Homo sapiens: one gene and its partner. Each later gene encodes a partner of the first gene's protein in a complex. Links are inferred from orthologs where the notes say so. Each region holds a gene or a part of one and is shown in the gene's direction. Other genes may lie near its edges. The genes, in order: GRB10 and NEDD4.

Evidence for each region.
Region 2: the proteins of GRB10 (region 1) and NEDD4 are in contact, whole or in part, in a crystal structure (PDB 3M7F), measured with the Mus musculus proteins. The link is inferred for Homo sapiens from one-to-one orthologs. Residues at the interface, in NP_001357532.1 of Mus musculus: Ile514, Arg516, Gln518, His519, Phe521, His522, Gly523, Arg524, Asp548, Gln579, Phe581, Gly587, Asn588, Thr589, Lys590, Phe591, Ser592, Ile595, Gln596, Asp599, Phe600, Leu603, Asn604, Ile617, Arg618, Val619, Ala620; in NP_035020.2 of Mus musculus: Glu71, Leu72, Val79, Arg104, Ser112, Ile114, Leu115, Thr116, Ser117, Val118, Gln119, Glu134, Ile135, Leu136, Phe137, Arg138, Leu242, Pro243, His244, Pro245, Pro246.

The regions. Positions count from the first base shown.
Region 1 is NC_000007.14:50,586,738-50,602,565, reverse strand, and holds the end of GRB10 (growth factor receptor-bound protein 10), read left to right. Parts: intron 1-7,035; coding exon 7,036-7,129; intron 7,130-9,467; coding exon 9,468-9,614; 3' UTR 9,615-12,498; downstream 12,499-15,828.
Region 2 is NC_000015.10:55,852,650-55,868,477, reverse strand, and holds part of NEDD4 (E3 ubiquitin-protein ligase NEDD4), read left to right. Parts: intron 1-5,398; coding exon 5,399-5,565; intron 5,566-7,699; coding exon 7,700-7,817; intron 7,818-7,903; coding exon 7,904-8,071; intron 8,072-12,281; coding exon 12,282-12,347; intron 12,348-15,828. UniProt on the Homo sapiens protein: E3 ubiquitin-protein ligase which accepts ubiquitin from an E2 ubiquitin-conjugating enzyme in the form of a thioester and then directly transfers the ubiquitin to targeted substrates. Specifically ubiquitinates 'Lys-63' in target proteins.

The DNA.
Region 1 (15,828 bases):
GTTTGTTAAAGAAGTGGGTCATTTGCTAATAGCATGTTTGTGGTTTATTTTAATAAGTTCCTCTGTCTCCCTGATTCCTGGGGAGTGGTGGTCATGGTGTGATCAGATGCATTTCTTCTGCCTGGTGTCTGCAGGGCAGGTACTGGGTGCTCTGCTGCCTGGAGTGGAGGAGGCCTGAAGCCTGGTTGCTGTTTAGTGGTGTCGGGTGAGCAGGGGTTCAAGTGCAGCCAGCTGGAACCTCCCCACCAAGGCTACCGTCCCCGTCCACCACATGGTTTTAGCAGCCCTTGGTGAACTTGCCCAGGTTCAGTATTTCATTAGGTGTTCCAAAATCATCATTTTCTAATTCCTTCCTATATGAGCTGAAGTTCTTTCTTGCATTAGATATTTCCTGGAAAAAGTAGGTAAATGCCTGGTTTTCCCCTTTACTTGTCAATTTTTAGAACGAGTTTGTGTTCTCCCACCTTCCACTAGAGGCAAACAAGGGGTGTTTTTGTTGTTAGTTTGGATTTTGTTTAAACTGTCACTGTGAACTTAGATTTTTGTGTTTGATTTATTTCAGTCAAAACCTCTTCTCGACGCTCACTTTGCCCCTCATTGGCCAATGGTTCCTTCAAGTTGCTTCCTGAGTTCTTTTGAGCTAGCATTAATGGTATTTGATTTTGGGGTGACAAGATGTATTAGACTCAAATGATGCATTTCTCACAGGGACCCTGATTCATTCTAATGCAAAATGGTATTTGGAGACTACAATCTTTAGATCTTTTTAGTAAACAGAGCTAGGACATGGGCTTTTTTAAAACAAAAAATAAATGTTGGGTTCACGTTGATATTGCTAATTCAAATTTGAGATTACAGGATTTTTTACTTCTTTGATTTTGTTGTTTTTTTTTTCCTCTGATGATCTCTGTTAATGGCATTAACTTAATTACTTATTACTTTATATTACATAATACAAAATACATACCTGTAATATCTTGAAAATATTAATGCTGATATTTATTCAGTAAGACACCTGAATTGCGATTTCTTTACAGTCCTTTTAATCCTTAAGGATTAATCCAGGCAGGTTACCTTAAAATACCTTGCCCAAAGTCACTTAAAGTAATTCTTCTCTATGGTTCTGTCACCAAACTGCTGGGTAAATCAGGTTTGTTTGTTTCAGTTTCTCTTTAGTGTTTGCAAGTGGATCTGATTTATTTTCTTTTTGGTTGAATGCTGCTTTGTAAATTGCATAAAACATTTTCATGGTTCCAAAGTCAGATCTATGAAATAAGGCACATGCCCTGTCCTCTCAACTCTGCCTCCCAACCCCTACACCAGATAAACAGCTTTTATTAGTGTTTGTTTATCCTTCTGTCATTTCATTGTACAAATACGAGTGAAAAGATTTTGTTTTCTGCCTCTCGTTAAGCAAATGTAGCGTGCTGCAAGTACTGCGCTGCGCAGTTCCCGCAGTCTCTGCATCCCAAGGATCGCTCCACAGCAGCGCATCGCGATGGCCCACATTTCTTTTCCACTCTTGGGTTTTCTTTTATGTACATGGAACATCATTTTTTAAAATGTCCCCTACTGAGGGATGTTCACCATGTTTCCAGGCAAATGTTATGAGACACAGTGCTGCATTGTTTCATAATTTTGCCATGTATCTTTGCCATGAGTCCTGAGAAGTGGGGCTGTGGGGTGGAAGGGCAGGGCCTATGTAATATTGTGAAGTATCACCAGAGTCCCTCAGCAGGCTTACTTCTTCATCTGAGAGTCATGCTGTCAGCCGCATCTCTCATGAAGGAGGCTGACCCTCGTTTCATGTATGGAAGGACTTCTTTGTCTTTTGGCAGTTCTACCCTGTTTACATTTTTTGTCCATTTTTCTAATCAGTTAAGTTGCAGACACTTTTGTTTTTCCCACTCCTAAATCATAAAGGGGTGCATTCATGTTGTCTTGTACTTGGATTCTTTTCCCCCCTCTCTCCTTCCTTCCCTCTGCTCCTCTTTCCTTCCTTCCTGCTCTCTGCATTCTCCCTTTCTTTCTTTTGTCCTTAGTTGGTTCATTTTTGGTCTTTGTTTGGTTTTGTTTCGATCCCAGATGCACTTGGGTTTATTTATCCTCACTGCTGGGTAGAGTATGGGTCTGATTTTATTTTGTTTCCCATGTGGCTTTACAATTGCTCCAAAACTCCTTACTCAAGATGTCAGCTTTATCACAGAGCAGTCTCTCAAAGCATTAGAAGCAACTCCTCCTCTAACTGTAAAACAGTATGTTTCTCCTCTAAAGTTTCTGGCATGCCTGAGGAGAGAAAAGCCTAACACAGAAATTTCTCTTTCTGTGACGTTTTTGAGTTAGGGGTATCTGTGTGTTCTGGGGCTTCTAATACAGTGTATACCTGCTTATACCCCTGAACCGTATCAACAGTGGGCCCAGAATGTTCTAGGGGGACCTCTGTTACCCTTGCCGTGTGTGGGAGGCAGCGCAGGCTCACTTCGGGGTAGCGTCACTCTGCTGGAGAATTGGCACTTCCACAGGAGGCTTTATTTGGTGCTGTGGCCACTAAGTGTCCTCCCCAAGGCCAGGGCAGTGAGGACGCCCATCATCCCGAGGCGAAGATGTTTCTGAACCTTGGGGGCGGGTGTGGCAGTCATATGTTTGAAGAAGCTTCCTGAGTGATTCTGGGATAAGGCCCACTCTGTCCACTTTGGATTGAAAGGGCTGCCTTGGGGTGGGGTGGATTGCAGGTCAGCACTGCTGGGCCACCTGAATTGTGTGTCAGCGTTTTGCTTCCCCCAGCCATGTTTGTCTTTCAATTTTTCTCGGATCAGAAACCCAGTTGGTGAGGCATCCGTCTTTCCAGACCTGTAAAGCGATAGAAGCATCACCTCTGTTACCTTCCGTTCCCCAAATCAGCCCGGCTGGTGCCGCCCGTCTTATTCTTCAGCAGGTGTTCCTCTCCGTCCTCCCTGGAGCCTTCCTCGTCTCCAAGGCTGTCATTTCCAGCTCCCGCCTTAGGCTGCTGGAGCGCTAACCACACACAGAAATGCAGATAATGGGATTGATTCAGGCGTTAACACAGGAACAGCTCATCTTCCTCTCAATTCTTGGGTGTAGGGAGGAGGTGTATTTGTATAACAAGGTAAATAATCCATTTCTAATCTTTACTGATCCCTGCAGAGATGATGAAGGCAAGCCAGTTTAAAGAGTTAAACAACAAAGAAAAGAAAACCACCTCGAAAAACAGCACAAGATTCTGGACAGACAGTATAACAACAGCATTTTCCATAGCTTTATTCTCAAACGGTGTATGCAGTTAGAAAGAGACATCAGAGCCTTAAATAAGCCCGTCAAGTATTCCTGAAATCCCAGGATCCAGGCAGCTCCCCTCCCATCCCCGTCCCCACCCATGCAGCTGAGCGTGTGCGCGCACATACTCGTGCTTTACCAGCCCTGCACTGAATTTGCCGCCTGCTTCCTTCCTGTCTTGCCACCCATGCCCGTCCCAGAACTGCAGGAGAAGGATCTTTTTAAGGGGAAATCTAGGTCTGTAGTCCTCTCTGCCAAACAATCCCACCCCACCCCCAACACCATGCTTATCCCCCCAGGGCATGTGGATGCCCCCCCTGCCATGCCCACACTCATGGTCCAGCCCCACTGGCCTTCCTGCTGTGCCAGGCATCGATCCCTGTGTCATCTGCCTGTGCAGTCCCTCTGTCTGCACTTCATGCCCCTCCACATGTTGGAAGGAAACCTCTTCGGCAAAATTTGAATTCTTTGAAGCTTTCCCTTCTCCCAACCGCAGAAAGAGAGGTGTTATCCCCAGGACTCACATAGCACCCTTGTAAGAGGGATACTTTCACTTTTCGTCTGCTTTTCCTGCTGAACCAGGAACTCCTCCATGACTGGCTGTGTGACCTTGGGGAAGTTGCTTAGCTTCTCTGTGTGTCACTTCCCTTATCATTGTGAAATGAAGATAACAGTATCACCATGAAGATGAATGAGTTAATACATGCATGAAACACTTTGCACGGTGTCTTGCTTGTAAACGTGGTCTAGATTGTACTCTGATCACTGTCGGGTCCTGTCACAAGGGGCTCTTCGTTCATTTATGATGGACTGGTGAGTGCACCATCCCTAGCATCGATTCTTAAGAACTTACCTGGTTCTTGCCACTGTCCATCCTGGGCCGTGTTTACAACTTCTGAGCCTGGTTAGTAGTCACTTAACATGCTTAGCTTCTCCCTGGGCATCTTTCCTATAACTGCAATCCCCTTAGAAATCACTGGATTGTGGCAGTTGGCTGATTGCAGTGATTGTTATTTCAAGCTACCTTGTATTGCGTGTGATCATGCACAAAGCTGTATATACATCAGCCATGGTCTTCTCAATGGTCCTGTAAGAGAAGAGTTATTCTGGCTGGGTGCAGTAGCTCATGCCTGTAATCCCAGCACTTTGGGAGGCCGAGGTGGGCGGGTCACCTGAGGTCAGGAATTTGAGACCAGCCTGGCTAATACCATGAAACCCCATCTCTACTAAAAATGTAAGAATTAGCTGGGTGTGGTGGCGGGCACCTGTAGTCCCAGCTACTTGGGAGGCTTAGAGGGGAGAATCGCTTGAACCTAGGAGGCGGAGGTTGCAGTGATCTGAGATTGCACCATTGCACTCCAGCCTGGGTGACAAGAGCAAAACTCCATCTCAAAAAAAAAGAGGTGTTGTTCCCCTTCTGCAGATGAAGAAATTGAGGCTGAGAAGAGAAGTTGCCCAAGATGATGAAGCTAATAAGTGACCTATCCAGGATTCCTGCTGATGCCTAAGCCATGCCATTCTCCCCGCATAGCAGTCATCTCAGATAGACAACCTTCAGGCATTCCCTATAAAGCTCAAGCCTTCCAGCAGCCTTGGGACTTCCCAGGGTGAGCCTGCCCCTCTCAGGGGTACACGTCCCTCTCGGGTAAACAGGCCTGGGCCATGCTGCCATTCACTCGTCTGTAGCTTCCCATCTGCAGAAGGAGACAGCAGATAGTTAACGGCAGAGAAAGGGACGCCCCACATTTTCCTCTAGTTAGAGCTGAAGCTCGGCAAACTTCTGGGTGTCAGAGTAACGATGTTTTATTTGGAATGACATGACTCTGACAAGTCTTTGAGGTGGGCACAGCTGCCCAGCATGCACCAGCGCTTGGGAGAAGAACTGGATCTCCTTGTCTTCTCTCTGGCGGTGCCGCGTGTTCCCCAGTGGGGTCTGAGCTTCCTCACGCCGTCCCATCTGGCCTGACCAAGCCAAACCATGGAATCCCATTCTGATCGGTGTTTCCCAAAGTATATCCTGAAGCACACAAGGCCTGCAAAGTGCTATTTTAGAAAGGGTGGGGGAGGTTTCTACATAGGTAAGATTGGAAAACTGCTAGGCAGTTACCATGAATATTCACATATTTAAGGCTCTGAGAAGTCCTGTAGTAAAATATATTTCTTTTACCTTTTCAGCATGGGATTTTCCAGTCTTATTTAACTGCTTTCCATCTTCACATTACAATCTAGACCTGGTGATTTTGCTGATGATTGTAGTTTGGTTTTGGATACATTTAAAGTGAGTTCCTTTTCAGGCCATTTCTTCTTTGTAGCTTTCATTGGATCTTTCTTCGCTTTCTGATGTATAACTATCTTTTCAGCTAACTCCAGATTTTCTCATGTAAGAGCAATGATTTTATGCCTTTTTTGTGCTATTCTAATTTAGGATTAAAAAAAAATTTTAAGGTTGTAGAAAGGTTGTAATAGTAATAGGATGAACTATACACACTTCGCCCAGATACCCTTATTAAGATTATGGCACATTTGCCTTTGTTCTTAGTTACTGTTTTTTCTTCTGAACCGTTTAGGAGTAAGTTGTGGCATGATGTCCCTTTAGTCTGAATTATTACAGTGTAAAATTTCTAAGAACAAGAACTTCTATAACCACAGTACCTTATAAAAACCAGGAAGTTAACATTGACGACGCAGTTCATTGTCTAATCTATACCCTTCTTCCTAATTGCCTCCTTTATAGCAAAAGAACATCTTCATCCTAAATCTTCTCTCCCAGCATGTATTCATAATCTTGACCTGCGTTTCGAGTAGAAGCCAATTCTTGTAGAGTGTGCCTGGGCTCAGCCTAGGCTCCTCACTCATGGTGAGATTCAGGCTATGCATTTTTGGCGGGAGCACCCCCGAAAAGTGATGTTGTGTCATCTTCAGTACATCGTCTCCGGAAGCCCTCAAGGTCAATTTGTCTCATTGCTAGTGGTGGTAATTTAGACACTTGATGAAGAAGATGCTGTCGGCCGGATTTCTCCACTGTAAAGCTATTATTTTCCCCTTTGTAGTAAATAAGTATTAACAGTACAATACTTTGATGCCATGAAAATACTCTTTTTTCTCATCCACCTTTCATCTGCTGGTTTCAGCATTTGTTGAAGATCCCCCCTCCTTCGTTAATTGTTAGTTACTACAGTAATTGCCAAAGGGTAGTTTTTGAATACATCTTGCCTTTATTTATTGGCTGACATTCTCCTCCAAGAAAGATTTTCATCTTCTCCCGTATTAATTTATTTGCTTATTTATTTTTAAATAATACTACAGACACGGATTCCGATTTCATGGGTTATGATTCATTACTTTTAAAATTCATTTTGATGCCCAGATTTAGTCATCCTGCCTCCTGTGTCTTTTTGACATGTCCTCATTATTCTTTGAGCACTTCTTGATATGCAGGCACAAAATAATCCTTTTCATCCTATAGTTTCCCTGCCCTAACCCTGTAGTCAGGCATATCCCCAAGGAGCCCAGCTTTTTTCCAATGGAGAATGACAATTCAGAATTACCGTCTTGGTGCTTGCCTGGTGTGCTGTTGCCCCTAGAGGCCACTTAAATGCCAAAGCACTGCACTGAAGCATTGTGGCTCCAAGCCTGTGTGTGTGTGTGTGTGTGTGTGTGTGTGTGTGTAAGAGAGTGTGTGTGTGTGATTAGTTCCAGATTTTAAAATATTTTAGCAATCAACTATTTTCCCTTCCCCAGGCTTTTTCTCCTCCGTGACAGCCAGAGTAATCCAAAGGCATTTGTACTCACACTGTGTCATCACCAGAAAATTAAAAATTTCCAGATCTTACCTGTAAGTATTGATGTTCTCAGACCAGTCCTTGTGGTTTGTTTTCTGGTTTCATTCTTAATGCAATTTTCAAGTTATAAACCGACAAGACCGGTAAGTATCAGACAGTTTCAAGGCTGCAGTTAAGAAACTTTCAAGAATTTCTTTACAGGTTTGTCTTTTGAAATTAGAAAAACATTTCCCTGGAAATAATCCTGAAAGTGGTGATAGGGTGTTGAGGCCCCCCTTGAGCCTGTGAGCTCTTGGTTGCAGCAGAAAGGGTACTGATGGGGAGGATCAAGGTCGCAGGAAGGGGAGGTGGAGGAGAATTAGCTGAGGGCCCACAGCTGAAAGGGTACTGATGGGAAGGATCAAGGTCACAGGAAGGGGAGGTGGAGGAGAATTAGCTGAGGTCGCAGCAGCTGTGAGCACGTGGGTCTGGAAGGCAGGAGTTGTGCAGCAGGATTGCCTGTTGGCTGCTGGAGTCTGAGGAGTCTTGTAATTTGTCCTGGTGTACACCAGGGCTATCCAAGAAGCGTTAAGTGGCCTCCCAAAGAGTAATTTTGTTTCTCCTTCCACATGGTCCTTGGATCTAAAGACCATTCTCCCTTTGAACAATTCCAAAAACTTCATTACAGAATACATTAATCAACACTACTTTTTTTGACAAAGCACTTTATGTTTGATTCGCCTGATGTTTACCTCTCACTTCAGTATGCCACAGTTCAATTCTAGTTCATGATTAGAGTGCTAGATCAGCGCCTACAAGAATTCAGTTTAGTTGAGAATACAATACACAAAATTAATAGCAGCTGTTTACATGCTGAATTGATAAATTCTGCAGGTAATGATAATGTTTGTGAAATGCATCCTGTGGAACCCAAACTCTACCAAAAGAGGCTGGCTGGACAGTTTCCTCTCAGAGATTCAATCTGCATGTCAGCAAAGAAAAAGCTCTGAGAAGGCTTAAATTAACTAAACTCACCTGTTTTACACAGTTGAACCTGGAGTTCTTCAGGCTTATCTGACCCCCAGGACTTTGTTATGATCTCAAGAATCGTGTAGTGACTGGCAGCCATGGACCATACAGGATGAGGAGGGTGTCTTGCTTAGCTTTTGTGAGCCAGGGGAAGGCAGTGTGCCACGCACTGTCTTTTCTGTGGCTGCTTGCTTCCTGCTGTGTGCTGACATCCCCACCTTACTCGTGAGGAAAATGAGGCTCATGGCTGTCAGTGGCTTTTCCTGCACCGCACTGGGGTGAGGAACAGAATCTGGGGTTGAGCCCAGCCTTCCCAGCTTCCAGCCAACCTTATATGCAAATACAGGAATTACTGTCCTAGGGAAAGTGCTGCATAGACAATCCTTTTTGTTCTTCTACTGCATTATATTATTCACACAGTTATAATTCTTTTAGCTCAAAATATAAAATGAAAAGTGATTGACATTTTAGGCTGGATGAGTAAATTAAAAAAAAAAAAGAAAGAAAGGGGGCTTTCGTGGTAGGCAGAGTGTGTAATGCCCAAATCCTACAAGTAACAAAAGAACAGCAACTTGGGACTTAGGGCATTAGGTGTGCAGCCTCTGTGTGTGAAAACTGGCTGTGGGATGTGCTGTTAGCTCTAGCAATGGTTTTAGAGTTACGAAGTGGTTCCAAGCTCATTAATTAGCCAAGCCTTAAGGCTGACCTATTCCCTGTGAACAACACGACCTCCTTTCAGCAGTGTTTTGCACTGTACTACAGTCATCCAACTGAAAACTCACTGAGTTAAAATAGGTGTTAGGAATATGATTCTCTCTGGGAGATACTGTGGCATTCCCCTGCTTTAATAAAAATAACTGCCCCATATTCAGGGACCTAGGAACGGAATTTACCTGCGTGAGCTTATTAATCCCTCATAGCCACCCAACAGTTGCTTCATCATGGAGCAGAGTAAACCCCTGGGGCCTCAGGAGTTGGCTGAGGTCGTATAGTGAGGACCCAGGTTTGTGCAGTCTTCTCGGGGCATGCTGTGTGCAGTGGGTACTTACAAGTTAACTGGTAAATGTAATTCTCATGAGCTGGGTGAACTGGGGGCAACTTCGAGCCCTTCCCCTTGACCACCTTAGGGAGCAGGGGAGCTAGCTGTCCTCAGCAGCCTCCGCAGCCCACCCAAAGTCTGTCCCTCGCTCAGGGACATGGCAGCCCCCAGCACACATCCTCTGCTCCCGTCTTTCCCGCCCCTGGTGTTTTCTAGCCTACCTTGCCCTGTGTGTCCCTCTGGAATCAAATCATGGGCAGATGTAGCTGCTGCTGGCCGTGGGCCCCGTTCTGTTCCCTGAGGTGGCAGCCTCTAACCTGGCAAGTGTTCTTGTGTCTCTCCAGTGCGAGGACGACGGGCAGACGTTCTTCAGCCTAGATGACGGGAACACCAAATTCTCTGACCTGATCCAGCTGGTTGACTTTTACCAGCTGAACAAAGGAGTCCTGCCTTGCAAACTCAAGCACCACTGCATCCGAGTGGCCTTATGACCGCAGATGTCCTCTCGGCTGAAGACTGGAGGAAGTGAACACTGGAGTGAAGAAGCGGTCTGTGCGTTGGTGAAGAACACACATCGATTCTGCACCTGGGGACCCAGAGCGAGATGGGTTTGTTCGGTGCCAGCCGACCAAGATTGACTAGTTTGTTGGACTTAAACGACGATTTGCTGCTGTGAACCCAGCAGGGTCGCCTCCCTCTGCATCGGCCAAATTGGGGAGGGCATGGAAGATCCAGCGGAAAGTTGAAAATAAACTGGAATGATCATCTTGGCTTGGGCCGCTTAGGAACAAGAACCGGAGAGAAGTGATTGGAAATGAACTCTTGCCCTGGAATAATCTTGACAATTAAAACTGATATGTTTACTTTTTTTGTATTGATCACTTTTTTGCACTCCTTCTTTGTTTTCAATATTGTATTCAGCCTATTGTAGGAGGGGGATGTGGCGTTTCAACTCATATAATACAGAAAGAGTTTTGAATGGGCAGATTTCAAACTGAATATGGGTCCCCAAATGTTCCCAGAGGGTCCTCCACACCCTCTGCCGACTACCACGGTGTGGATTCAGCTCCCAAATGACAAACCCAGCCCTTCCCAGTATACTTGAAAAGCTTTCTTGTTAAAATAAAAGGTGTCACTGTGGTAGGCATTTGGCATATTTTGTGGACTCAGTCAAGCAACCACAGTCTGTTAATCATTTCTCTATGCTCAGATGTCAGATCCTCTTGTTATTAGTGTGTCTTGTTCTGCACAGTGCAGGAGACTTTATTCCTTTGGAAAATTCACTGTTCCACAAACAGCAGGCTGAATGGCCTCGCCTCTAGATTGACGTGGGCCAGCCTCCTTGAGACACACCTGGCACCCGTCATCGGCCAGCGGTGGATGCTGCATAATCCACCTGGGTACTTCAGCCTTGCGTTTCCACAGCCTTCAGCCTGTTCTAGAACGATCACTGCCTTACCCCTGCTGCTGCAGTGGTGTGAGTCGTTTCACGGCTGATGTCCCTCGGGGGATTAAAGGATCTAAAGAGAAAATGGCACCTGGTTGTCTTCGTGCTGTGTCTCATGGGTTTCCATAGTGATAAAGACAAGGAAACGCTGCAGGGGCCACAGGCACAGGCTGATATTTAAAGATCTTTGCTTGCAGCCCTCCGTCCTGCTGAAAACCCCCATAAGCCAGTGAACACAGAGCAGCTAGAGGCTCCTCCTCTGCTGGCTTAGGGTCAGAAGTACCTCACAGTGGTTGTGGACATGGAAGAGTTTTGTCAACACAACACTTTGTCCCCGCTCCGGGAGATGAGTCAGATGGTGGCTTGAGTTGTCACTTGGTCCCCTCCGCCCCTCGGGTGGCCCCCTTTGCCACGTCCCCTTAGCTTAGTGATCAGGTGTGAGAGTGGCCATTTCCTTACCTTTGATCCCTGTAAAGCAGAAAGGACTCCTTTGACAGGCGACAAACTACTGTGGTGAGCAGAATGATTTCCTTTTTCAAGACAACACCTGCCTGGCTTCTATTAATGTGTGCTGGCCATGATATTGCCCCAAATCCGCCCCACTGAAGTGTTCCCTAAGGAACAGCATTTCTCTGCTCCTCAGTCAACCCCCGTAGCCTAGAGCAGTGTCACAAGCTTCAGTAAGGCCAGTCAGCTGGAAGTCAGTCTACCGTATAGTAACACTGTATGTCAGTCTACAGACCACACTCTAGTTGTTTTCCATGAAAGGTATACAAATGAAGAATTTTCTAGCAAAACATGTTTTTAACCATCAGTGCTCAATTGCATTTTCTTCCTTTCGCAGCCAGTCAGTCTTTCAAACTATTGACAGTAAGATAATTCTCACGTTCACACCTGGTGGCAGGCTTCACTGTAGGGACGGACATTGCAGTTACACCACGATTCCTTCCTCTTCACTGGCTCGAGGTAAACCCTTTTCAAGGAAAAACAACTCTAGGATTTCTTTTTTCTGTGTACGTAGACCAGTCCCATCAGTGTATAATCTCTCTCTCACACGCCTCTCTCCAATAGACAGCTTGTATTTGCAGTATTTCATATTTATAAATATGCGTTTATTTAAAAGGAGAACAAAAGCTTGACTCTGATTCACAGTTTTGTATGTAGCTGGTTTGACGTAGTCTTTTGTATTTTCCCTGCCGAAGTGAATTGTTGGAGAATGTAAACCGCCTCCACGTGGCGGCAGACTTCCTAAGGCCCCAGCTCGCTGGCCTCGCGCTGGGCGGCTGGGAATTCCACCTGAGAACAAGTCCCGCAAACCGGGGACGGAAGGACATTTGACTTTTATTTTTGTATTTAATTGACATGAATGTAAAGGGGACAGCTCAGGGTTGTTTTGGAGCCTGTTGACTTTGTATCTCTGCCTGTGATTTTCTTTTCTAAATGAAACTCCATGTAGCAACCAGGACGAAGTTGAGAAGGAAAACGCCAAATGCTTTGGTTATTAGAGTTTAATAGGTAAGCTCTGTTACACTAGGTGTTAGAGTTCCAGAATGTTCTTTTGTTTGCTAAACCTTGAAGAAACATGTGCCTCAGCCTAGATGTTTTGTCTTCTCTTTTCTGCACTTAATACCTGACAGTATGACCGATCTCTGCGCCTTTCTGGGGGCGGGCAAGCTGGCGGTAGATTTGTGATGTCACAGTGCAAACTGCAGTGACTGTAAATTGGCCTGGCGTGTATAAACGTTTTCAGGGAATGCAGAAGGTATTAATGAAGAGACAAAACCTTTATTCCATGTGCTTTGCTTCATTCTGTACATAGCTCTTTGGCTCGTGAACCTAATTGTAAACTTTCAGGTATTTTTGTACAAATAAGGGACTGATGTTCTGTTTCTTGTAATTAGAAATAAACATTAATACAGTGTTCTTCATTTTCTATTGCTGGTGATATCTGTTTCTAATTTTAAAACACTGGCCAATCATGAGGTCAGGAGTTCGAAGCCAGCCTGACCAATGTGGTGAAACCCCGTCTCTACTAAATATAAAAGTTAGCCAGGCATGGTGGTGCGCACCTGTAATCCCAGCTACTCAGGAGGCTGAGGCAGGAGAATCACTTGAACTTGGGAGGTGGAGGTTGCAGTGAGCCGCGATTGTGCCATTGCACTCCAGCCTGGGTGACAAAGCAAGACTCCTATCAAAACAAAACAAAAAAAAAACCCTGGCCTGTCATCCACTAAAAACATTTTGAAATGACTTAGAATACTAAAAACACACTTCTTACCACTAGCTAGACACTATCACAAGGAATCCATAGCTGTTTGGGACATGTCACACACAAGCTTGCACAGCCCTCGTGAGACACCAGGCTCTTGGCTGCTTAGTGCTCCAAGTTGGTGGCAAGACATTCTCAGCTGGCCTCTCCTCCCCCATAAAAATAACAGACCTCAGAAGGTTTCAGAAACCGTCAGATACCCACACAGGCTTCAGAAAGACCTCAAGAAACTCACATTCACCCTTGAGCCCAACTGGCATTTTTTCCACTGCAGTAAGACAATTAAAATGTCTAGAACCTAGGTTTTCTAAGCCAGCAAACAACTGACAGAGTAAGAATAGATGCCCATTATTGTTGTTTCTCCAGCCCTCGCCTGGGATGATCCTGGCTGAGCTACTGACCTGACACTTGGGCCAGACTTGCCATCTCATGCCTCTTCCCTGTCACACCCTGGTCAGCTGGAGGGCATGTGCATGTTGTCACAAGCTAGCCTGGTCTACCAGCAGGAGGGCCCCTGTGCTGTGTGGACTCTCCCGTCATTTGTTTTCAGAATCTGAATTCTCAGTTTCTGGAAGCCCACCCTCTGCTTCAACATACAAGGAGAGCCCAGGGCAGGTGGGGACCCACCGGGCCAACTGCAGTTGTTGATCGTAACACCAAAGAAGCTTGTAGGTGCAGCCACGCAGGGCCAGCCAATGGCCTCCCAAGAGCACCCCTGTGGCACAACGCGAGAATGCATCTCACTGCCTCCAGCACGTTCTTCATCGGTTTTCACAGCATTTGAGTGATGAGTAAAATTATAAAAAGGGATTTTGTTTAATGATAAAAGCCTTAGCTTCTTAAGTGTAAAAAGGTAAAATATTCAACATCTTCCGATTATAGAATGGTAAAGGCAGCGTTACCCCTTTTCATTTTGGAAGTTATACAACATTAAGAAGGGCAGGAAACAAAAATGAAAAATCCGCCTTTGACAAAATTGGGCTTCATCTGCCATCCCCAGTCATCATCCACAAGATGGGCAGCTTGGGAGGCCTGCAAAGATCAAGCAAGGGCCACGTGACAGGATGTCCATGGCTGCTGGCCTCAGCACAGCTAGCAAAGGGCACTTCAGAATGAGTGGTGTCCCTCGGGGAACTTGGGGTCCTCTGGGAACAAGGAGAAAGACACTGGGGTTGGTGGCAATTGGTGTCATTTTTTTGTTTTTTAAGACATGGTAGGCACTTTTGATCTGTAACTACATCAAAGTCTCATTTGATTTCTGGGAATGTTTTGTGAATTGCATCTAAATACATTTTTCTTTTTGTTTTTTCTTTTTAATTTGTTTTTTATTGAGGTAAAATATACATACATAATTTACCATGTTTACATTTTAAGTGTACAGTCCTTATAAATGTTTCCACTTCCCTGCCCCATCCCATTTCCCAGCCTCTGGTAGCCACCAATCTACTCTCTATCTTCATGAGATCCACTTTTTTAGCTCCCACAGAGGAGTGAGAACATGCAAAGCTTGTCTTTCTGTGCTTGGCATATTTCACTTCAAATGGTGTCTCCATTTCCGTCCATGTTGCTACATCTTTGCAAAAAGATGGAAATTGTGTGTTTGCTCCCTTTTGTCAACCTCTCCTAGCATTTGCGGAGAGGCCCTGCAGCTCTCTTGGTGTTTGAATCTGAGTTGCTGTCTTAGTCCTGTCCTCCTCCATATCCGTGATGGTGTTTCAGTAGGGTCTGTTCTCTATGCTGTTTCCTTGCACACTTCCCTGCTAGGCTGGCTTCACTTTTCTCTGACGTTTCTCTTCAGAGCTCTGCCAGCTTTCTTTATCTAGTGCCTGAGCTTTTACAGCTCCGCTTTGACCTTCGGTGATGTGATTGCTTTCTTGTTTCTTGTTTTGTTCTTTTAAGTTCGTGACATTATGTTTGGTTGCAATTTTAATCTACTCACAGCAATGTTTTTCTACAGAATGCTCTTGCTACCATTTTTCTCCTATTATTTTCTTTTATCTTGGGGTATCTACATAGAAGATCAGTGCTGGTTCTTTAAAGGAGATGAGCTCTTCTTGGACTAGCCAATAGACAGGAAGTTTAGGCAGGGAAGTCCACAAGGGCTGTGTTGGATGCTACCAGGACAAAACAAAAGTAAGGCTGAGTATGAGAGTTTCAAGAACTTGACAACGTAAGCCATTAAGATGGCCAACCAACTAACTCCTCTCACTTCCTGTGGTCACCCCACCTTCACGTCCAGCCCTTACACCACTTCCAGATGAAACTCCAGAAATGACAGCTGGTAAATTTATAATAGAACCACATTTTCTCATTGGTCATCACTGTATATTCATACGTAGGCACACAGATCCACTCTGCTCTGTATACTCACACCTGGGCACACGGATCCATTATGCCGTAACTGTATACTCACACCTGGGTACACAGATCCACTCTGCTGTAGCTGTATACTCACACGTGGGCAAACGGATCCACTCTGCCATAGCTGTATATTCACATGTGGGCAAATGGATCCACTCTGCCGTAGCTGTATACTCACACGTGGACGCAGATCCACTCTGCCGTGGCTGTGTACTCACACGTGGGCAAGCGGATCCACTCTGCCATAGCTGTATACTCACACGTGGACACAGATCCACTCTGCCGTAGCTGTGTACTCACACGTGGGCGCAGATCCACTCTGCCGTGGCTGTGTACTCACACGTGGACGCAGATCCACTCTGCCGTAGCTGTGTACTCACACGTGGGTGCAGATCCACTCTGCTGTAGCTGTGTACTCACACGTGGGTGCAGATCCACTCTGCCGTAGCTGTGTACTCACACGTGGACAAGGATCCACCCTGCTGTAGCTGTATACTCACACCTGAATACAGAGATCCACTCTGCTGTAGCTGTATACTCACATGTGGACAAGGATCTACTCTGCTGTAGCTGTATATTCACACCTGGATACACAGATCCACTCTGCTATAGCTATATACTCACATGT
Region 2 (15,828 bases), on another chromosome or scaffold:
TCATGATTCAGTTACCTCTCACTGAGTGCCTACCACGACACGAGGGGATTATAGAAGCTACAATTCAAGATGAGATTTGAGTGGGGACACAGCCAAACCATATTAACAGCAGTTACTGAAAGCAAAGCACACAGCGTATGGCACCAAATTGCTCTGGAGGGTTCTTATTTGTTGCCTTGCTTAACACTTTCTCCTCTGACTGAGGGCCTGCTTAGGTCTCCATAAGAACAGTGAAGCTGAGGGCCTTCCCCAGGGGCTAGGCTCTACCTCACATGCCCATGTACCTTGAGAAAGAAAAGCTCTAGAACAGGTAGTGAATTTGCAGCAGAGCTTTCTGGGAAAATTTTAAATGCACTAATGAGATTTTGCTTTGCAGGAGAATCTATAATAATAGAAGGAAAGACCTTTTTTTTTTTTTTTTGGAGTCAGAGTCTTGCTCTGTGGCCCATGCTGGAGTGCAGTGGTGCAATCTCAGCTCGCTGCAGCCTCTGCCTCCTGGGTTCAAGTAATTCTCATGCCTCAGCCTCCCAAGTAGCTGAGATTACAGGCATGTGCTACCATGCCTGGCTAATTTTTGTATTTTTAGTAGAGACAGAGTTTTACTATGTTGGCCAGGCTGGTCTTGAACTCCTGGCCTCAAGCCGTCCATCCGCCTCGGCTTCCCAAAGTGCTGGGACTACAGGCGTGAGCCACGGCACCCAGCCAGGAAAGAACCTTTTTTCTTCAAATCACAGAGTATAGATAGCCCCTGGTTTGGTGATCAAAGAACTCTCTTCACTTATTTGATTAACTTTTTGTTAGGTATTTTTCTCTGATTTTCGTATAATTGTTTTTAAAGTTTTCAAGTATTCATTCAGTAGAAGTTTCTCTACCTGGCTTTTTGGTGTACCAGAGTATCTCGAATAATGGAATTCTGTTTGAAATGAAGGATATCTGCTGTAAAGAAAGAAAATTATTTATTTAGTAACTTGAAAAAATTTAACAGCATTTCATTATTTAGTAACCTGCTCCAAGTTTTGCCCACATGCACGCATCATAGGACCCTATTCACAGTTGAGTTTCTGTGGAGAGAACTGCTTCACTTCATTTTGCGGTCTCATGTCTCAGTGTTTGAATTCCCTCAGAATGCACCTTATAATTTCAGGAGATGTAAGCTTGTAGGAGTTTATTTATGAAAGGCCCTAGGAATTCAAACACATGAATCTGTGCTTATTTACCTTCTGTGTAGCTAATGACTAGAGGAGTCTTGCCTAGTCCTTTGACAGCTAGTTTGTGACTGTATATATAAAATTCTACTATTTAAGGAAAACAATTGTAATTTTGAAATGAAGCTCACTCTTAGGTAGTTTGTATTCTGTAGTAAAGTATGGCTATAATAGATAATTATGTAACATTTGATTTTTGTACCATTTGCAACTTTAGGGTTAGTTGTATGTATTTTACAAAATTAACATAAAATGTTGGTTGTACCTCTGAATGCTTTCTTTCTGACCCTCTTTGACTTGATTAAATTGTGAGCAATTACATATTGGCTTTGCGGTTAGAAATTAAATAAGGTTCATTGATACTTAGAAAGTTATTTTATAAAGAATAGCAGCTGATACATATTTAATAGGAAGGCCTTCTATCCAAAAAATTGACTGTATAGAGGCATTGTATCCAGTCTTTCTAAGCCGTGTTTGATTGTACAACTCTACTTCCACAAATTTGAGACAGGTCTTTTTTAAGCCCTTAATTAAATTAATTTTTGTTCTTTCTCTTCCTGAATTTACTCAGATAATATAAATACATTAAGCAGACATTTAAGAGAGAAATCTCTAAGAAGCTTTAAAAGAAATATTCTTTTGCTACCATTTTTCTAGCACTATTTTTATAATCCTTTACAGCAGTAGTGAGAACTATTTTATTAATAAATTGTATTAATCTTAAAGGAAAAGTAATCAATGGTTATATTCAACCAAAAAATGTTAAATTTATATTTTCTCAAAAGAGTAAAATATAAAAACTTAACGTGTTTTGGGATTGAAACCAGAAACATACAGTCTGATTCAATATATGCAAGACTAAATTTTAGGTATGCTAGATCCTGTATTATCATAATTTAAGAGAAAGGAAAAGAAAGAAAGAAGGAAGATCAACATGGATGGGCAGACAAAGTAAGAGGATATAAGGAAAGAAGAGAATGAAATTTGGGCAATAAAAAGAAAAAATAGAGAGAACAATTCTTATAAAAGAGGTAAAAATTTAAAAAAAAAAAGAAGAAAGGTTGGGCACAGTGGCTCACGCTGGTAATCCCAGCACTTTGGGAGACCAAGGCAGGAGGATTGCTTGAGCCCAGGAGTTTGAGACCAGCCTGGGCAACATAACGAGACCCCATCTCTACAAAAAAATTAAAAATTAGCTTGGGATGGTAGTACACACCTAAAGCCTGAGGTGGAAGATTGCTTGAGCTCAAGAGGTCAAGGCTGCAGTGAGCTGTGATGGCACCACTGCACTCCAACCTGGGTGTCAGAATGAGACCCTGTTGAGAGAGAGAAGAAAGAGAGAAATTCCCCTCCAGACCTTTTCTCCCAAAATAATTTATTCTGTCATCTTCCTACTCCACTACTCGTCACCTTCTATACAGAGCTAGCCAAACTAGATCAGCCTTGCTGCAGAAACCCCTATCCATTTCTCCCTGCTACCAAAAAACATTCCTTTCCTTCCCAACTCTTTTCCCTGAGGCCTCGTTTTCAGGTCTAGCCTTCCAACGTGGAAGAATTCTCTTCCATCTTGGAAGCCGTCCACTGCCTGTCACACAGCAGTCATTTACTGCTGATCTCCAGGCCTAGAACAGAAGCTCTGTGTATCTAAGGAAATTATTCTGTGTCAGTTATCAAAGCACCAAAAATGTTTGCCACTTTGTCATTTGGTCTTTTTTTTTTTAATGTTATTTAGTAGTTTTGGCCATATACAAATGTGGGTGTTTTGTTATCAAATTTATGGATCTTCTCTTTCATGCCTTCAAGGTTTGGTGTCATACTTAACAGTGTCCCACTTTTAAAATATATTTCTAAAATTTTCAAAAGTTTGTTACTACTACTTTTTGGTTTCACTTTTAAACATTTAGATATTATTCAGTCTGTAACTTATCCTGATATAAGGCATGAGGTAGGAATTCAAGTGAAGTTTTTTCCAAATGGGTGCCCATTTTCTAAGTAATCTGCGTATTTTGCCACAGATTTCAAATGTCTTTATCATATTCTAAATTCCTATAAAGTTTTTTTTTTTTTTTTTTTTTGAGACAGAGTCTTGCTCTATCGCCCAGGCTGGTATGCAGTGGTGCGATCTCAGCTCACTGCAACCTCTGCCTCCTGGGCTCAAGCAATTCTCCTGCCCCAGCCTCTCGAGTAGCTGGGATTACAGGCGCCCGCCACCATGCCCGGCTAATTTTTGTATTTTTAGTAGAGATGGGGTTTCACCATGTTGGCCAGGCTGGTCTCAAACTCCTGACCTCAAGTGACCCCCTCACCTCAGCTTCCCAAAGTGCTGAGATTGCAGGCATGAACCACTGTGCCTGGCCGGAATTCCTATAAAGTTGAGTTTCTTTCTGGGCAAATCTATTGAGCTGCCTGTCGATGCATGCACCAGAACCACACAGCTTTAATTGTTGTCATTTATAATGTGTTTTTATCTGGTAGGGTTGATCTTCACTTCTTGCTTTTCTTTTTAAAAATTGTGCTGCTTATTCCTGCTTGTTTATGTTTCTGTTGAACTTGAGAGTTGCCTCGTATCTTTTTTTTTTTTTTTTCTTATGAGACAGAGTTTCACTCTTGTTGTCCAGGCTGGAGTGCAATGGCGTGATTTCGGCTCACCATCACCTCCGCCTCTCGGGTTCAAGTGATTCTCCTGCCTCAGCCTCCCGAATAACTGGGATTTACAGGCATGCGCCACCACACCTGGCTAATTTTGTATTTTTAGTAGAGATGGGGTTTCTCCATGTTGGTCAGGCTGGTCTCAAACTCCCTACTTCAAGTGATCTGCCCGCCTCGGCCTCCCAAAGTGCTGGAATTATAGGCCTGAGCCACCGCACCTGGCCTATTTTTTTTTTTAATCATAATACAGTTTTGTTGGAATCTTGGCAAATTTATAGATTAACTTGGGAAGAATTGACACCTTTGTGAGACTGAGTCTTCCCAGCCAAGAACAGACTATGTCTTTCCCTTATTTAGGTCTTCTTTTGTGTCCTTTTGGGAGCATTTTAAAGTTTTCTTCACCAGTTTATTTCAGTTTCTAATGCTTTCCTAACCAATCAGTATTTAATAGAATCTTTGACCTACTGCCTTTTCTTTTGTGAGGTTTCTCATATAAAAGCATTAACTCTTGCTACTCTTTTCTATCAATTCCTTACTTTAACTGCCCTAAGGCTTTATGTTAATTTTGCCCCTTGTTAATCTCTGAGAAACCAAACTTCTCAGTGCATTTTTTAAAAATCTTTCTTTGGCTGTTTTATGACTTGATAAAATGCCTTGCCTTGGTCCAGAGGAGAAAGAGAGAAATCAGACAAGGGAATGAGAATGACTTTTCCATCACTAGAGAGTTCACTGTAGCAGTTATTTCTAAATCATTTGCCTTCCCCATCTTGCCCCTTTGTATATTTGACCTTTATCAAATGATTTTTTCCATGTGTCAGATAGTTATTGATTTCTACCGTAAGCAAGGTGCTTTCTCTGTAGGAAAGACAATGACCAATAAGAAATAATCCTTGCCCTTCATTCAGTTGATAATTTAGAGAACAGCCTAAGATTACACTAGTAGTTTAAACTATACTTCTCAATTTCTCAGTACTTTCCAACTTTCCGTGGTTGTTTATTTAAACGATTTTTTGTCCTTTTTTTCTATTAGATTTTTTAAAATTTTATTTTTGATTGACAATAATTGTATATATTTATGGAGGACAATGTGATGTTTTGATATATACTTACAATGCAAAATGATTAAATCAGGCTAATTAATCTCATTAAATCACCTCACATACTTTTATTACTTTTTTGTTATGAAAATTTTAAATAGATTTGTTTTAAAGTTCTGTTTTATTGTTGTTTTGAGATGGGATCTGGTTCTGTCACCCAGGAAGAACCTGGTGGAAACTTTACAGGCTTGTGCCTTTAAAGTTTTTTTTGAAAAATTTTTAGACAATTTTAAACAAAATTTAAATGGTTATCATTTTTGCAAAAAGAGTCTTCATTATCATAAAGTATTTACATTATGGTCTTAAAAGTTGAGGATTGTTTATTCTGTCTATGCATAATTTCTAAAACTTGATATAATAAATCTCTTTTTAAATTTCCTTTAGCATATAATTTAGAAAGTTAAAAAAATCATGCGTAAACTTAATTGCTGCCATCCTGTTTTTCAGCCTGGCTGGGTTGTTTTGGACCAACCAGATGCTGCTTGCCATTTGCAGCAACAACAAGAACCTTCTCCTCTACCTCCAGGGTGGGAAGAGAGGCAGGATATCCTTGGAAGGACCTATTATGTAAACCATGAATCTAGAAGAACACAGTGGAAAAGACCAACCCCTCAGTATGTGCTGATGGCTTTCACAATTTTAATCTGGAAACACTTTAACTACGAATTTTCATTTTGAAGTCATGTCTCAGATGGATTCATAACAGTATAGTGATCCATAAACTATAAGAATACTAGGATTTTTATTGCCCAGGACTTTAAAAATCCTAACTCTGCTGTTTCGTTTTTTAAATGACTTGATAATATTCAAAATTACTTGACTCTAGATACTACCCTTTTAATTGCGTCTTAATTTTAATAGGTTTTTAATTTTATGTAGCCACAAATGGTAGATTTTTATTTTTAGGCTGAATTAGAAGTCTTGGAGAATTCTTGTAGTTTGTTATTAAAATGTAATAAAATGTTAATTTCTATAGTACTCTATTTTTAAAATATAAATTATTTGTAAAATATAAAGGACTCAATAATAAGGGTATTACGTTAAACGCGCATTTGACAGTCTGGTCAATGTCCACATAACTTCCAGCACGCACAGATCAAGGACGGAATGACTTTCAACATATTCTAACTTCTGTCTCCTCAGTGATTTTTTTTATTATTAGACTGTATATACATTTATAAAATCTCCCATTATTCATATTTATTCTCAAATCCCCTTCCATTTTTCCTTCCATATAGTCTTATAAAGTCTTCCTTTAGTCTTCTGTTTGAAACATACTCGTAATTTTTTAATGTGTTCATTAGCCTCCTAATTTTTGGCTATGATATTTTGTGCCTGATATATGCCAAGCACTTTTACAGATATTTTCTGTTCTCAAATCCTTCCAAAACAAATCAGCAATTCAAGTACTTCATGGCACAGAAGCTTCAGTCTTCATAGAGTGACGTACAGACTGCAAAGCTGAAGACACTATAAAATTCTGTAGAATTGCGCTGTTGCATACCTCAGTATTATGGCAAGCCTTACATGAGCAAAATCACAGTTCTTTCACTGTGGCTGATGTCATTTTCAGGTAGCCAAAATCATATATTTAGGGGGAAAAAAACTGAAGCATTCCCTTAGAGCCATGTATCAAAATTATGTTTTCTTTAGCTACGGTACAGTAAGAACTGGTCTTCTGACTAGCCTGAGCTCATGTCGCATTAAATAAACAGTAATTTTATTATTAAATATTTGAACAAAATTCTTGATCTGATAGACTGGTTATATTAAATGCAAATAATTAGAATAATATAAATGACTGGGGTAAGGGTGTTCAATCTGATTTTTTTTAATTTTAATTTCTGTGGGTCCCTAGTAGGTATATATGTTTGTGGGGTACATGAGAGGTTTTGATACAGGCATGCAAGGCATAATAATCACATCATGTAAAATGGGGTATCCATCCTCACAAGCCTTTATCCTTTTTGTTACAAACAATCCAATTATAGTCTTCTGGTTGTTTTTAAATGTACAATTAAATTATTATTGACTGTAGTCACCTGTTAAGCTATTAAATACTAGGTCTTATTCATTCTTTCTGTTTTTTTTAATACTCATTAACCGTCCAATCTGATTTATTGTACCTCTCCTAAGCTCAGACAAATCTTTACTATTACCTTTTTCAGGACAGGCCCATGACTGTATATTACGAAAAACAGATACCATTACTAATAGATATGTAATTCCTAAACCATTAAGCTTTTCATTATAAAGTTCTTACACCATCTTTCATTCTGCCCTTCACATTCATGCATGGAGTACTCTACTCCTGGCTTAAGACCAATTCTAGAAAATGTACTATCTGATTCACAAAGATGTATGTATGTGTAACTCTATTACTCTTATAATAACATGGCAAAATAATACAATGAAATAATCTATGAAGCGCTCTGATATTTATTCATTCAACAAATATTTTTGAGTACCTATATGTGTTGGACATTATCCTAGACATAGTGACAAACTAAAATATCAAATCAGACATGTTATACCTTTTCACAAAACCTTAAACTCCGTAAGGTACTCTAAATATACCAGTCTGCCTACCCATGATTGAATCTTTGCATGTTGAAATAGCCTTTGGTCAAAGACAATAAATTTTTTTATTGATGTAATGTAGATTTTTTTCCCAATGATCACAGAATCTTTGACAATCATTTTAACTACTTAAGACATGGATGATGGCTTTTTATACTTCCAATATAGGGACAACCTAACAGATGCTGAGAATGGCAACATTCAACTGCAAGCACAACGTGCATTTACCACCAGGCGGCAGATATCCGAGGAAACAGAAAGTGTTGACAACCGAGAGTCTTCCGAGGTATAAGTAGTTTCCTAGTTCTCCTTGAAAGACACATGCTATAGCAATAAAGTATGTGTGGCTCAAGCTTATTCTGTTCATTTTAGAACTGGGAAATTATAAGAGAAGATGAAGCCACCATGTATAGCAACCAGGCCTTCCCATCACCTCCACCGTCAAGTAACTTGGATGTTCCAACTCATCTTGCAGAAGAATTGAATGCCAGACTCACCATTTTTGGAAATTCAGCCGTGAGCCAGCCAGCATCGAGCTCAGTAAGATGCTCTTAGATTTTGTTACGGCTTCAGTAGTTTATATTATGCATATTATACTATTCAACAACTAACTTTTATGTAAAATTTTGTCTTAAATGCAATAATATGTAATAATACATTAGGGACCTTGGGACTTTACAACATGGTCATTTTTCAAATATCCTCATTAGTAGTATGGACCAGAGTCATGGCATCCAAATTTCCATTATGTCAGTGCCCTCCAGTCAAAAATCACTAGGGACACATTTGTCATTGAACAAGTTGGGTTTATTATTCATTTCAGCAAGGGAGAACACGCACCATTGGTGTTTTGGTAGCAGAATGTTAGAAAAGACTTCAGGGATTTGGGCTCCTGTTAGGTGATTTTGAAGAGGGTTTTAGGAAGCAGGACTTTGCTCTACATGAGATGCTGTTGGGAAGCAGGGATAATTCTATGATTTTGTATCTCAAATCTTATCTGTAGTGAGGCTAAAGCTATGATTAGCAAAGTAGAACAGTCACTCACATTTGCCAGGATGGGGAAATGTTTGGTATTTTGTGGCTTGGACAATGTTCATGTTTTGTCTATATTCAGCCACGATTACAGAGTGGTCTTGATTTTGTCTTGATCTTACCTATGAGTGCCAGGCCAGCTCTTGGATGTTAGGGACTGCTTTTCTCTCTCCCAGTTATGCTGAAGTTGGTTTTTTGTTTGCTTGTTTGTTTGTTTGTTTTGAGACATCTCACTCTGTCACCTAGACTGGAGTGCAGTGGTGCTATCTCGGCTTACTGCAAACTCCGTCTCCAGCTTCAGGCGATTCTCATGCCTCAGCCTCCTGAATAGCTGAGATTACAGGCGCACACCACCACGCCCAGCTAATTTTTGTATTTTTAGTAGAGATGGAGGAGTTTCACCCTGTTGGCCAGGCTAGTCTTGAACTCCTGGCCTCAAGTGATCCACCTGCCTCAGACTCCCAAAGTGCTGGGATTACAGGCATGAGCCACTGCTTCTGGCCTGAAGTTTTAACATTATATCACAGATGTCACCAACAGGTATATATGAATAAGAACTGATATACTTTGACTAAACAAGGAGATAGATGACATTTTCACTTCAGCCACCACTGTAAAAACTGTTGTCCATAGGGTTCAGAATAAAGTATCCCAGCATATGCTTCCACGATGAGAACTTCATAGCTAGCTGTCTAATATGTATCATCAAGGGAGATTGAGTAGAAGACAAAGATTATTCTCTGAGGATGCTATTTGTCATTTCCAGTTGAGGTTTCCCTGCCTTTCATTTAGTTAGTAAATATTTAATGAGAGCTGATCACATATATGCAGAGTACTATATGCTAGTTACTGAGGATACATCAGTCAATAAAATTAACAATATCTCCTGCCTTCATGGGACTTACATTCTAGTGCAGAGGAAAGCAAACTACAACCGGTGGGCCAAATCAGCAGCTGCCTGTTATGAATAATTACCATTGGAATACAGCCACATCATTTGTTTTGGTATTGCCCATCTCTGCTTTCACACGACATCATCTGAATAAAGTAGTTACAGCAGCAACCATATGGCCCACAGCCAGTATTTACTGTCTGGATCTTAACAGGAAATGTGTGCTAACCTCTGCTCTAGCATCTTCTTCAAGAAGCTTCACAGTAGATAGTTGTACGTGAATATGAATATCTGCCAGTAAATCCGCCTGCCTGCCTCCTGCCCTTCCTTTCTTCCATTTGTCTGTTCTGTCTTCCATTCATTTCATTTTTTCACAGGGGAGTGGGACAGGTCAGTCAAAGACCTAAACTACATTAGGCCAGGCGTGGTGGCTCACGCCTGTAATCCCAGCACTTTGGGAGGCTGGGATTATAGATGGGTTGAAGTCAGGAGTTCAAGACCAGCCTGGGCAACATGGCGAAACCTTGTCACTACTAAAAATACAAAAATTAGCTCGGTGTGGTGGTGCACACCTGTAATCCCAGCTACTTGGGAGGCTGAGATTGGAAGAATGGCTTGAACCCAAGAGGCAGAGGTTGCAGTGAGCCGAGATTGCACCATTGCACTTCAGCTTGGGTGACAGAGTGAAACTCCGTCTCAAGAAAAAAAAAAGAATAAACCATATTGATTTGCTGATGATAAATCACATACGATCCCATTCCCCTTCTTCCTGGTATTTTTTTTACTTAAAGTAATACATGGCAACCATATAGTGTAATACTATGCAGCCATTGAAGAGAACAAGGTGGGCTCGAGTGTATATGTTGGATGGAACAATCCCTAAGAGATGCTGGTAAATGAAAAACAGCAAGGTACAGAACAGTGTGTTTGTTACACCAGAATTTATGTAAATTATTTAAATGCAGAGCATAAATATGTGTATAATTTACTCGAGGACTAAACAGGAAACTAATAACTTTGCTTGCCTCTGAAGAGAGGCAAAGAATGAGCAGGATATATATTGTTTGTACCTTTTGTTTTTTTGAGATAGGGTCTCACTCTGTCGCCCAGGCTGGAGTGCAGTAGCATGATCATAGCCCACTGCAACCTCAAATTTCTGGGCTCAAGGGATTCTCCCACCTCAGCCTCTGGAGTAGCTGGTACTACAGGCACATGCCATTGTACCCCTGCTAATTTTTTTAAAAAATTTTTGTAAAGACTTGGTATAGTATTGTTTCCCAGGCTCCTTTTGAATTTTATAACATGTATGAGTGTTACCTATTTTAAAAAATATTTTTAAAGCACTGTATGGTTATGGTTACAAATTGAGATTGTATTTAGGTATATAAAATAAAATTTAAGACTGGGCATCTTGGCTCACACCTGTAATCCCAGCACTTTGAGAGGTCAAGGCAGGCAGATCACATGAGGTTAGGAGTTCGAGACCAGCCTGGCCAACATGGCGAAACCCCGTCTCTAATACAAAAATTAGCCGAGTGCAGTGGCGTGTGTCTGTAATCCCAGCTACTCGGTAGGCTGAGGCAAGAGAATTGCTTGAACCTGGGAGGTGGAGGTTGCAGTGAGACAAGATCGCACCACCATACTCCAGCCTGGGCATCAGAGCAAGACTCTGTCTCAAAAAAATAAATAAATAATAAATAAAAATTAAACCTTCTATCTTACCACTAATATATGCTCCCTCAGTTACTATTAGTGGTCAAAGACCTAAAGAATAAATGATACTGATTTGCTGGTGATAAATCACATGCATACATATATAGAAACTTTTTCTGTATATTCATAAACATGCATGCATACACATATATTTGTAGATGATTTTTTAACCTGAGATCATCTTAAACATACTTTTTGGTAACTTGCTTTTTTCACTTGCTGTCTCTTAGACATTGAACCATTTCAGTACAGATAGATGTACTCCTTTAAAAACCAACTAAAACAGTCATTAAACTCTGGCATATTCCATTGTACAAGTAACCCTTAAGGCATTTCACCAGTCTCCTATTGAAAGACTTTAGATTGTTTACAGTACTATTATAAACAGTACTACAGTGGATATTCTGATTCAATTTGTATGTGCATTGTAAATTTTGATGTCATTAAATAACAAAACTAAGATATTTCAGATAGTGATAATAGCATGTATAGAAAAACATAAGGAAAGAAAGAACATGAGATTTCCAGGAAACAAGTAGTCTGGAATGTCCAGGGGGTAGATTGCGAAGTGGGAAGTGGCTGAAGAAGTCAGGAAGAGGCAGGTCGTGGTGTTCAGGAAGCATTGTTTTCTGTGTTGTCATTGACTTCAGCTCCAGAAGGACAGGACTGGCTGTGCATTGCAGGATGCTCTGAGCCTGCAGCGTGCAGCATGGAGAATGGACTTAAGGAAGTAAGACTTGCAACGGGGAAACCTCTTAGGATATTGCTGCCATTGTAATCAAAGTGACAAAAGATGAAACTTGAAGTTAAAACAACAATAAAACTAGTAACTAAAGTGGAGAGGGAGTGTATTTGAGAATGGTTTCTGTGAAACATTCAAGAGAAGGTGTCCAGGAGGCAGTCCAGCACGGGGGGCATGGGAGCTGGATGTGTGAAGGTGTCCACGTAGGGGGCTGAGAGCGACCACATGACTCAGCCTGCACTCTCAACATTTGCATCCTAGCCAGCCTTCTCTCTTCTGCCCTGTCATATTTACCCTCACTACCTTAGCTGTCACTCAAAGGCAAATCACAAATATCAAGGTATTCTTCTGTTGTCTTGTTTTTTCACAAGAATCATTCCAGCAGAAGAGGCAGCTTACAAGCCTATACTTTTGAGGAACAACCTACACTTCCTGTGGTGAGTTTTACCCTCTCCCATCAATCAATAAAAATATAAAACTCAGCATCTCTTTTTATTTTTTGGAAGATTGAGTGTGAACGTTTGCCTTACAGGGAGCCAATACAGCACAGAATGTAGGCTCCAGGTGGTGATGTTCAGGGAAGGGGCTTAAAGACAAAACATGGAGAACCGTCTCTCCCATGTTAAAAGCAAAGTCTCTGCATGCTGGTGACTGTGGGTGGTATCTGGGCTTGTCAGTTGAAGTGCTGTGCTGGCTAGAGGTGATCCGCTGCATACGGCATACAATTCAGGATCACTGTGTCCATTTGCTGATGTTCTGCACATGCACATGGCATCCAGCAGCCATGTCTGCCCTGTACATGAAGAATAGCCAGGGTTTCATCACTCAGGCGTGCACTGGCATTCACATGCCCGGCAGCCAGGCTGGAGTTTATCAGTCCTTGGTCTGTTTCTTCCCTGCAATATCACATCCACCAGTCTACTAAGGCCTTCTGCTTCCTGCTCAGTGCTGTCCCAGCCACAGCCTGGATGGCAGCTTGGACCTTAACCCTGCCTCCATCCTCTTCCTAACACAAGCCTCACTACTGAGTTTGTCTCTGTTTTCCAGAAGCCCTACTTGTTTTTGAAACCAAAGTAAAACTCCCAGGCTCCCAGCCTCTTCAGCCTACCCTTCTCCTTATCCCCCAACAGAAGCCTCCTGCTGCCTTCATTCCTGTCTATGCTTTTTCTTCCAAGCAGACTGTTCCCATGTCCTGATTCTCTCCCGCTTCTGAGTCTGTGTGCATTCCATTTCCCCACTTGGAATGGCTTTCTCATTTTCTTCCCCAACCATCTGGAACTTTGAATGGCAGTCTAGATATCAGCTTTGAAAAGTAGGGTATGTTCTAGCACAGGAATGCAGAGTCTCCAAAATCCTCATCCCATGAGTGGGTTATCTGTCTAAATAACACCCTGCACTAAGAAAGGGACACAGATCCTGTGCTGAGGAATGAGAGGTCGCCCACCTATGCATCATTGCTCTGGTCAGTACTGACCATCAACAAGAGGACAGATGCCATTGAAAGACTATCATCGCTAGCCTTACTCTCACTCACTGTCATCTGTCCAGCCTCCTCCATTAGATCAGAGCCCGCTCAAGCTGAGTTCCATGGTGTTTTTCCCTCTGCACGTTATAATGTCCTCTATACAATGAATATGTGGAAGTTCTCATTGACTGACAGACATTCACCCAAGACACAATTTTAGATGGACCGGATGAGCAGCAGAATCTCGAGATGATTTATATTTTAGTACCAGAAAAGTTGTTTCCATGCCTTTTTTTTCCCTCAATACATTGATTGGGGTTTTTTTTAAGAGCTTTCTTGGAGTATAATTTACATACCATAAAATCCACCCATGTTTGATCATACAATTAAAGAGTTTTTGTAAATTTATACAGTTATGGAGACATCACCACAATCAAGTTTAAGAAACTTCTGTCACCCCCAAAAGTTCCCTCAATCCCTATGCCTACTCTCAGTTGCAAGCAACCGCTCATCTGCTCTCTATTGCTACAGTTTTTGCCTTTTCTAGAAATCTCGTGTAAAGGGACTCGTAGGGTGTGGGCTTACGTGTCTGACCTTTTTCACTTAGCATGCTGTTTTTCACATAGACCCATGTTATTGCATGCCTCTATTAGTGCACGGTATTCCACTGTAGAGATATATCCACTACATTTATCTATTCACCAGCTGATGGACACTTGTAGAACTGGGCAGCATTTAAATGCATCATTTTGTGATGTATCAGCTCATCACAACTGTCCCCAAAGTACGTAGGACTCCCGTGTATTTAGTAAGTGGTGTCTTCATTGTAGAGACTGGTGGTGATGGTTTTTATGTTGTAAGCCACCTTAGGGAGCCACACCAAACCAGGGCTTATCTGGTTCAAAATGACAACAGGAAGGCCAGATTTAGGACTTTTTTTTTTCGGAGGGGAGGGGGATGGAGTCTTGCTCTGTTGTCCAGGCTGGAGTGCCCAGGCGATCTCGGCTCACTGCAACCTCTGCCTCCTGGGTTCAAGTGATTCTCCTGCTTCAGCCTCCCGAGTAGCTGGACTACAGACGTGCACCACCATGCCCAGCTAATTTCTGTTATTTTGAGTCGGAGTTTTGCTCAGTTGCCCAGGCTAGAGTGCAATGGTGCAATCTCAGCTCACTGTAACCTCTGCCTCCCGGTTCAAGCAGTTCTTCTGTCTCAGCCTCCTGAGTAGCTGGGATTACAGGTGCCCACCACCATGCCTAGCTAATTTTTTTGTACTTTTAGTAGAGACAAGTTTTCACCATGTTGGCCAGGCTGGCCTCGACTTCCTGAACTCAGGTGATCCGCCCACCTCAGCCCCCAAAAGTGCTGGGATTACAGGGGTGAGCCATCATGCCCAGCCTGGATTTAGGACTATTTTAAGTAAGCCTGGAAATAACCAGACTTCTCTTTATTCATTTGTAACAAACTATGATAAATAGCATTCTCCTAGCTTTTAGAGAAACAAGGCAGGAGTAACTGTTGATTCAGCAGATAAGCATGATTTCTGTTGTTAGATTACCTGGGTTCAAATCTCAGCTCCATTCCTTAGAAGCCATGTCGCTTAACAAGTTACTTCCATTACTCTCGGCCTTTTGGCTAAGATCAAGTATAGTAACAAGTTACTTCCATATTGTAAGCTTCTGTTTACTCACCAGTAAAATGAGCCAGTATTAGTAATTATCTCATTGAAATTCAGGTGGGAAGTAAATGACGTTATCTGTGTTAAACAGGACACGTGCTTGTTATTGTTGGTATGTTTTATTAGGGTTGTTATCACTCTCATTATTATTGTTCTAGTGTTTTTTTTCCCAAGTGAAGTACTGTACACTTTATCTTGCACATTTTAAGATATTTAAAATGTGGTTTATTTCACTAAAATGTATAATTTACCCATTTTTATTATAATACATGGTTTTAGTTCAAAATAAAATATAATTTGTTTTAAAGCAAACAAGTAGTGAAGAAGGGATGTGGTGTTTTTTAAAGGATTCTTTCTTATTAATATTTAATTCTTCTGGCCAGGCACAGTGGCTCATGCCTGTAATCCCAGCACTTTGGGGAGGCCAAGGCAGGTGGATCACTTGAGATTAGGAGTTCGAGACCAGCCTGGCCAATATGGTGAAACCCTGTTGATACTAAAAATAAAAAAATTAGCTGGGTGTGTTAGCACATGCCTGTAATCCCAGCTACTCAGGAGGCTGAGGCACAAGAATAGCTTGAACCCAGGAAGCAGAGGTTGCAGTGAGCCGAGATCATACCACTGCACTCCAGCCTGGGCAACAGAGCAAGACCCTGTCTCTCTCTGTCTCTCTCTCTCTCTCTCACTCTCTCAGAAAAGGTAAATATATATATATATATATATATATATATATATATTTCTAGAAAAGGCAAAACTGTAGTAACAGAGCAGATGAGTG